2 linked regions of the Homo sapiens genome follow. The protein of the gene in region 1 purifies or fractionates together with the protein of each later gene. This does not show direct contact. Each region holds a gene or a part of one and is shown in the gene's direction. Other genes may lie near its edges.

The links.
Region 2: the proteins of PNPLA6 (region 1) and HEATR3 purify together in Homo sapiens (co-immunoprecipitation; one large-scale study listed by IntAct). This does not show direct contact.

The regions. Positions count from the first base shown.
Region 1 is NC_000019.10:7,538,420-7,542,232, forward strand, and holds part of PNPLA6 (patatin-like phospholipase domain-containing protein 6), read left to right. Parts: intron 1-1,498; coding exon 1,499-1,639; intron 1,640-1,729; coding exon 1,730-1,889; intron 1,890-2,210; coding exon 2,211-2,291; intron 2,292-2,503; coding exon 2,504-2,632; intron 2,633-2,934; coding exon 2,935-3,015; intron 3,016-3,102; coding exon 3,103-3,265; intron 3,266-3,564; coding exon 3,565-3,648; intron 3,649-3,813. UniProt on the Homo sapiens protein: Phospholipase B that deacylates intracellular phosphatidylcholine (PtdCho), generating glycerophosphocholine (GroPtdCho). This deacylation occurs at both sn-2 and sn-1 positions of PtdCho.
Region 2 is NC_000016.10:50,086,401-50,090,213, forward strand, and holds part of HEATR3 (HEAT repeat-containing protein 3), read left to right. Parts: intron 1-3,813. UniProt on the Homo sapiens protein: Plays a role in ribosome biogenesis and in nuclear import of the 60S ribosomal protein L5/large ribosomal subunit protein uL18 (RPL5). Required for proper erythrocyte maturation.

The DNA.
Region 1 (3,813 bases):
CAATCCTCCCACCTCGGCCTCCCAAAGTGCTGGTATTACAGGCATGAGCCACCACGCCCAGCCAAAAAAGGAATTATATCTGAATTTCTTGATTTCACTGAGTTTAACTCAGGGTCCCATCCTCCAAGGTCTATCTCAGGGATCTTTTGCCAGCGGAGGGTCTTTCTCAGCAATCACTGTGACTTGTGGGGAAGGGCTCTCCCAGGTCCACGATTAGCAGAGGGGCTATCTGGATTCTCCACTTATAATGAGGGCTACTTCAGGGACCTCTGTGGCTGTCAGAGGGGCTGTCTCAAGGTTCTCTGAGACTGGGAGGAAGGTCTATCTCAGGAATGTTTATGTAGAACAGAGAGACTGTATCTGCGGTCTTCTCATATATTGGAAGCTATGTCAAAGGCATACTCACGTTAAGGGGACTATCTCAGGAATCTACTCTGTGACTACTGGAAGGACCGTTTCAGGACCCCCATGATAAACACAGGTACCATTTCTGGGCCTACCCTTATCTTGGAAGCTATGTCAGGGGTCTGCCTTCCTAAAGGGTTCAGCTCAGGGGCCTATGCCTAGTGGAGGGGCCATCTCAGAGAACTTTAGGTCTGGGGTCATAGGGTTTTTCCATAAAGGGCCAGATAGTAAATGTTTCAGGCTTTGCTGGCCACATATGGTCCCCATTGCAACTCTTCAACTCTGCTGCATGGGAGCAGCCATAATGATATGCAAATACATGAATGTGGCTTTGTACCAATAAAACTTTATTTACCAAAATAAATGTGGCCAGCCGGGTGCAGTGGCTCACGCCTGTAATCCTAGCACTTTGGGAGGCTGAGGCGGGAGGATCACTTGAGTTCAGGAGTTTGAGACCAGCCTGGCCAACATGGGGAAACCTCATCTCTACTAAAAATACAAAAAATTAGCTGGGCGTGGTGGCACCCACCTGTAGTCCCAGCTACTTGGGAGGCCGAGGCAGGAGAATCGCTTTAGCCTGGGAGGTGGAGGTTGCAGTGGGCCGAGATTTCGCCACTGCACTCCAGCCTGGGTAAAAGAGCGAGACTCCTGAGGCAGGGCACAGTGGCTCACACCTTTAATCCCAGCCTTTGGGAGGCCGAGTCGGGCGGATCACCTGAGGTCAGGAGTTCGAGACCAGCCTGCCCAACATGGAGAAACCCCATCTCTACTAAAAATGCAAAATTAGCTGGGCGTGGTGGCACATGCCTGTAATCCCAGCTACTAGGGAGGCTGAGGCAGGAGAATCGCTTGAACCCTGGAGGTGGAGGTTGCAGTGAGCCGAGATCGCACCATTGCACTCCAGCCTGGGAAACAAGAGCAAAACTTCGTCTCAAAAAAAAAAAAAAAAAAAAAAAGGTGGCCAGCCTGATTTGGCCAGCGGGCCAGAGTTTGCTGTACATGAGCCCTGGGGAAAGGGGTATGCGGGGGTCTTAGGTTTGCCTGAGCCTTCTCCGTGCCCCCCTCACCCCCGGCACCCCTCCCCTCCCACCAGGATCCTGCGCATCCAGAAAGAGACGCCCACGCTGCAGCGGAAGGAGCCCCCGCCCGCAGTGCTAGAAGCTGACCTGACCGAGGGCGACCTGGCTAACTCCCATCTGCCCTCTGAAGTGCTTTATATGCTCAAGAACGTCCGGTCAGTGTTGGGGTGCAGGTGGGGGTGGAGGGCTGCAGACGTGGGGCCGCCCTGACCTCCAGCCTCTGTCGCCCACCGCCTGTCCAACAGGGTGCTGGGCCACTTCGAGAAGCCACTCTTCCTGGAGCTCTGCCGCCACATGGTCTTCCAGCGGCTGGGCCAGGGTGACTACGTCTTCCGGCCGGGCCAGCCAGATGCCAGCATCTACGTGGTGCAGGACGGGCTGCTGGAGCTCTGTCTGCCAGGGCCTGTGAGTGGGCCTCCCCAGGGGCTGCTGCAGGAGGATGGGTGGTGGGGATGGGCAGCAGGCATTGGTCTGTAGAGCTGGTGGTCTTTGGAGATGCGTCATCGGGAGTCAGGGGAACGGGTGACCGAGGACATTTGGGGTAGTCTGCGTAGTTGCTCAGTAGTTACAAGTATTGAACGATGGGAGATGCCTGCTCGTTGGAAGGGTTGGTGGGTTCCCCTGAGAAGGGATGAGAAGTGTCAGTGATCATTGGGATGGATGAGGGGGCGACATGCCAGTCACCAGGGCGAGGCCACTGAGGGTCCACGGTCTCCTGTGTCTCAGGACGGGAAGGAGTGTGTGGTGAAGGAAGTGGTTCCTGGGGACAGCGTCAACAGCCTTCTCAGCATCCTGGATGTCATCACCGTGAGTGACCAGTTTCTGAGGCAGGGGGGCTGGGGTGCAAGGTCCCACCCAAGGGACTAGGTTGAAGGAAATCACAGGGTCCCCAATCTCTGGTTCATCCGTTATGCTGCCGATGGCCCCTCACGGGACTGGCGCCAGGAAGGATTAGGGGAGTAGCGAGGGGGACTCGCAGCCTCTGCCCTTGTCTCTCTTCACGCCCTCCCCTCCCCCAGGGTCACCAGCATCCCCAGCGGACCGTGTCTGCCCGGGCGGCCCGGGACTCCACGGTGCTGCGCCTGCCGGTGGAAGCATTCTCCGCGGTCTTCACCAAGTACCCGGAGAGCTTGGTGCGGGTCGTGCAGGTCAGTGGGCCTTCGCCTCCTGTCACCCCCTGAGGGACCCCACCCTGGCCCCCACCCATTCCAGGCTCCAAGGGACCGAGGCCCAGCAGCCAGCAGGCGCTGGAGCTGTGGTTATCGGCCTGGAGCAGCCAGATGTCTGCAGCCGCGGACTCCTCCCTTAGCTGCCTCGCCCCATTTCCCCAGACTGTGGGTCTCTCCCTGGTTCCCGCCCGACCCCTTATGCTGCGAACTAGCCCGGCCCACCATCTGGCCCTGCCCCTTACCCCGCCCCATCTTATGGCCACGCCCCTCGAGCCCTGCAGATCATCATGGTGCGGCTGCAGCGAGTCACCTTCCTGGCACTGCACAACTACCTGGGTCTGACCAATGAGCTCTTCAGCCACGTGAGTGGGTGGCGGGGAGCGAGCACAGGGGGGATGGGGGCGAGGTCTCCCTCCCAGGACAGGCCACAAGCTGTTCTCTGCCCCCAGGAGATCCAGCCCCTGCGTCTGTTCCCCAGCCCCGGCCTCCCAACTCGCACCAGCCCTGTGCGGGGCTCCAAGAGAATGGTCAGCACCTCAGCTACAGACGAGCCCAGGGAGACCCCAGGGCGGCCACCCGATCCCACCGGGGCCCCGCTGCCTGGACCTACAGGTACCCAGGGACCCGAGGCCAGCCGAGCCCAATCTCCCAGGAAGCCCCGTCTCAGCCGCCAGCCCCTTTTTCAGTTCTGCATAGAGTCAACCTGACCTTGTCCAGCCCCACAGGGACTCCATAGCGGGGTACCCAGGTCTGACTCCTATCTGGTACCGAGGAAGCTGTGGCCTCGTCCCCAAGGGCCCATTGGAATTGCTTTAACTAGTTAATCAGTCGCCAGCATCTCCTTATCTCCCAACCTGCTAATCCTCCTAGTGGCTCTGAGGGGCAGGAGCCTGAACATGTGTCTCCCCCAGGGGACCCTGTGAAGCCCACATCCCTGGAAACCCCCTCGGCCCCTCTGCTGAGCCGCTGCGTCTCCATGCCAGGGGACATCTCAGGTTTGGAGCACTGGGTCTGCGGGGAGGGCCATGGAGCTTCCAGGTTTGAATCCAGGTCCACCGCCTGCCTGTCTTGATTGTTTTAATCTGCGAAATGGGAACACTGCCAGTACTTCCCCAGGCACTGTTTTGTAGATATTCATTGAGATAGTGCTTCTCCCACCT
Region 2 (3,813 bases), on another chromosome or scaffold:
AGGGGCAGGAATTTGGATTTTGTAAATGTATATTGTTTGTCATCCAATGTGCAGAAACCTTTCCCAGACACAGGAATCATGTATTTATAGTTGCCATGGGGTACAGAGTCAAAACGAGGTATGCAAGCAGCTCCTGGGCTTATAATTTTCTTTTTTGTTAAAATTGTTTGCATCCAGTTATATCAGGCCAGTCAAGGCTGTATCATAAATATCATAAAGGCCTCATTAAGGTATTTGGATAATTCTCAGCCAAGCACGGTGGCTCATGCCTGTAGTCCCAGCACTTTGGGAGGCCGAGGCGGGAGGATCACCTCAGGTCAGGAGTTGGAGACCAGCCTGGCCAACATGATGAAACCGCTCTACTAAAATACAAAACTTTAACTGGGCGTGGTGGTGGAGATGCCTGTAATCCCAGCTACTCGGGAGGCTGAGGCAGGAGAATCGCTTGAACCCAGGAGGTGGGGATTGCAGTGATCTGAGGTTGTGCCATTGCACTCCAGCCTGGGCAACAAGAGCAAAACTCCATCTCAAAATAATAATAATAATAATTGAGTACTATTCTATTATTTTCTTCCCAGTTACAAGCATTTAAGTTTGATTAATATATGTATGTAGTACAGAATTCAAAAGTTATTAGAGGACAGAAACTGGAAAGCCTCCCTCCTTTCTCCGACACCCAGTTCCTCTCCCAGAGTCAAGTTACTGTTGCACCAGTTACTTGTGTATCCTTCCAGAGAGATTCTCCATGTATAAGAGAGCGTGTGTATGCGGGCATGCGTGCGTGTGTGTAAGGCAAATGGTAGAATACCATCCACACAATTCTACACCTTGCCATCATCTAACATGTATCTTTCTTCAAACACCTTTGCATGGTAGGAGCTGATTCTCTTAAGTTACAGGTCTCTGATACGGATTAATTTCATATGCACACAAAGATCTATAGCGATACAAGAGTTAAATTAAATATTCTTTTAAATGACCTAGCTGTAGGTTTCACTTGGAGGGAAAAACAAAAAAAACAAAAACTAGCTGTACAAAGTCCAATGCATGTTCTTCTAACAGATTTTCATAGTTCCTCATAGTAAAATCTTACTTAATTTGACCACATTAAACTATAGGAGCTCAAACCAAACAAAAACAAGAGAGACTGAGAGAGAAGAACAAGTGGTGTTTTCTATACTGAAGGAAAACTCTCCACATTACTCCACCCAGTATCCATTGCTGGAGCGAGGGTAGCCTGGGAGGTGGGAATCTGCCCCTCTCTCTCAGCTGCTGAGGTTCCAGGTGTCTTTCAGGATTTTTTGAGGGTAAACGTGAAGATATTTGCTTTCTACACTGGCAAATAAGATAATTCCATTGTGTTATATTCAGTGTATTCTTCATATATTTTATCCTCCTTTTCAGACACAACATTAAGTCCAAGAATTGAACTCTTAAAAGATCAGGCCAGGCGCGGTGGCTCACACCTGTAATCCCAGCACTTTGGGAGGCCGAGGCGGGTGGATCACCTGAGGTTGGGAGTTCGAGACCAGCCTGGCCAACATAGCGAAACCCTGTCTCTACTAAAAATACAAAAATTAGCCAGGCGTGGTGGCAGGCACCTGTAATCCCAGCTACTCGGGAGGCTGAGGCAGGAGAATCGCTTGAACCCGGGAGGCGGAGGTTGTGGTGAGCCAAGATCGCGCCATTGCACTCCAGCCTGGGCAACAAGAGTGAAACTCCGTTTCAAAAAAAATCAAAAGAGAGTCACTTTTAACTAAATACAAGTTTTTGTGTCAACATCCATTCAAGTGTTGGTCCCCAGTTCTTTAGACATCTGTTTTACATTCCGTCAAGTTCCTAAGAGGTGCTGTGTGTTTAATGGTACATGTTTTTTAAGTTCTAAATTAATCTTTAAAAATTAAGTAATTAAATATTCAGAAACCCATATGTGGTTACTGAGCTGTCTCTGCCACCCTTTCAACATTGATCAGTTAACAGGTGTACCTTTCAAGTACTCCCTGGCTGTGCATTCATTGGCTGGAATGATCCCATGAAAGCTGTGCCCAGCCATGCCCAGGACAGGATATAGTCAGGATATGGGCAGTGCTAGTCCCATTCCCATTCCAGGGCAGGACGGGACAAGCACTGGAGTACAGAGGCAGCTCGTCAGTGTGAGCAGACCAGATGATGGCTGTAGCTTTGTATTTGTCTCCTAGCCTCCTAAACCTGGAAGAGATCTGGATGGTAAACGGGGAGGGGACTTTCCCCAACTTTTGCAAGCATTCTGGCTCCCATCAGCCCAGCAAGATGTCCTGTGGGGTGGGAGTGAGAGGGCTGCTGTTGCTCATGCCCACCCCCACCCATTCCCCTGAGTAGAGGCAGGGGGCAGAGCCAGGCAGGGAGTCCACAGCCAGGGTCCCAGGTGAGCAGGACCCCAAGTCTCTCACTGCTTCCAAGCCCTACCTAAGCTCTAGGTAACCCTGGCAGCCCTGGTTCCACAAGCTGCCATCTCTCAGCTCTGGGCCATTTCTCACTGAGAGTCTGGTCCAGGTACCCCCGGTCCCATCCCCAGGCAGCACACAGAGGTTATTTCACTTGAAACAAACTCCCTGTGTGCCTGTGCTATAGTGAAAGCACTCAGATATGTTTCTCTTGGTTCTGCTGGTTATTTGTGGTCACTGAGGCCAGCACATTTATTAACTGCAAAGATCACAGGAAAACTGCCCCAAGCTGAGTCCTGGAGAAATAATGGAAAGTTTCTGAATTGTGGGAAAATATAACTAAGCACTTTGATTTTAAATAAATTCCCATTTCATGTCTATTCTTGACATCATCTTTTTTTTTTTAAGGTTCAGGAATGTGACATGCTGCTAGGTTAAGAATGCTTTTGTGTATCCTGAGGGTCTTGATGATATTTATGTAGAAATCGCCTACCACACGTTACTGTCACAACAGTAATTTTGAAAATGTATTCACCTAATGACATGTGCTCAGTTACTTCCAGGGATTGGTAGTCTGAATTGGCCTTGCCTATGTAATGGGTTTGGATGGTTACTGCTGGGGGAAGAGGGCCATTACAATACCTCTGGGCTGTCCAGCTTGCTTGGGGCCCATACTCGTATCCCATCTGTGGCCTTCGTATCACCTAATATTGGCATTCGGAGAAATGGAGAATCAAAATGACTTGAAAAGTAGTGTCATTGTTATTTATTTTGGAGTAACAGAATGTTTTCTTATCAGAATGAATTTGATAAAGGATAATCGCTTATATTTGGAGATGATATTCTTTTTTTTTCTTTTATTTGAGATGGAGTCTTACTCTGTTGCCCAGGCTGGAGTACAGTAGCACGATCTTGGCTCACTGCAATTTCTGCCCCCCAAGTTCAAGCAATTCTCCTGTCTCAGCCTCCCAAGTAGCTGGGATTACAGGTGCCTGCCAATGCGCCCAGCTAATTTTTGTATTTTTATAGAGACGGGTTTCACCATGTTGGTCAGGCTGGTCTTGAACTCCTGACCTTGTGATCCACCCGCCTCGACCTCCCAAAGTGCTGGGATTACAGGCATGAGCCACCGTGCCCGTCCTAGAGATGATATTCTAATACAGTCCTTCTAAGCATTTGGGATTTATTAATAATGTAATCCTATGGGTTCTATATGGATAGTGGGAATTGTTACAAGATAGTTTAGTGGGGGCTGGCCACGGTGGCTCACACCTGAAGTCCCAGCACTTTGGGAGCTGAATTGGGAGGATCACATGAGCCCAAGAGTTTAAGACCAGCCTGGGCAACATAGTGATACCCTGTCTCCTCCAAAAAGGTTTTTTAATTAGCC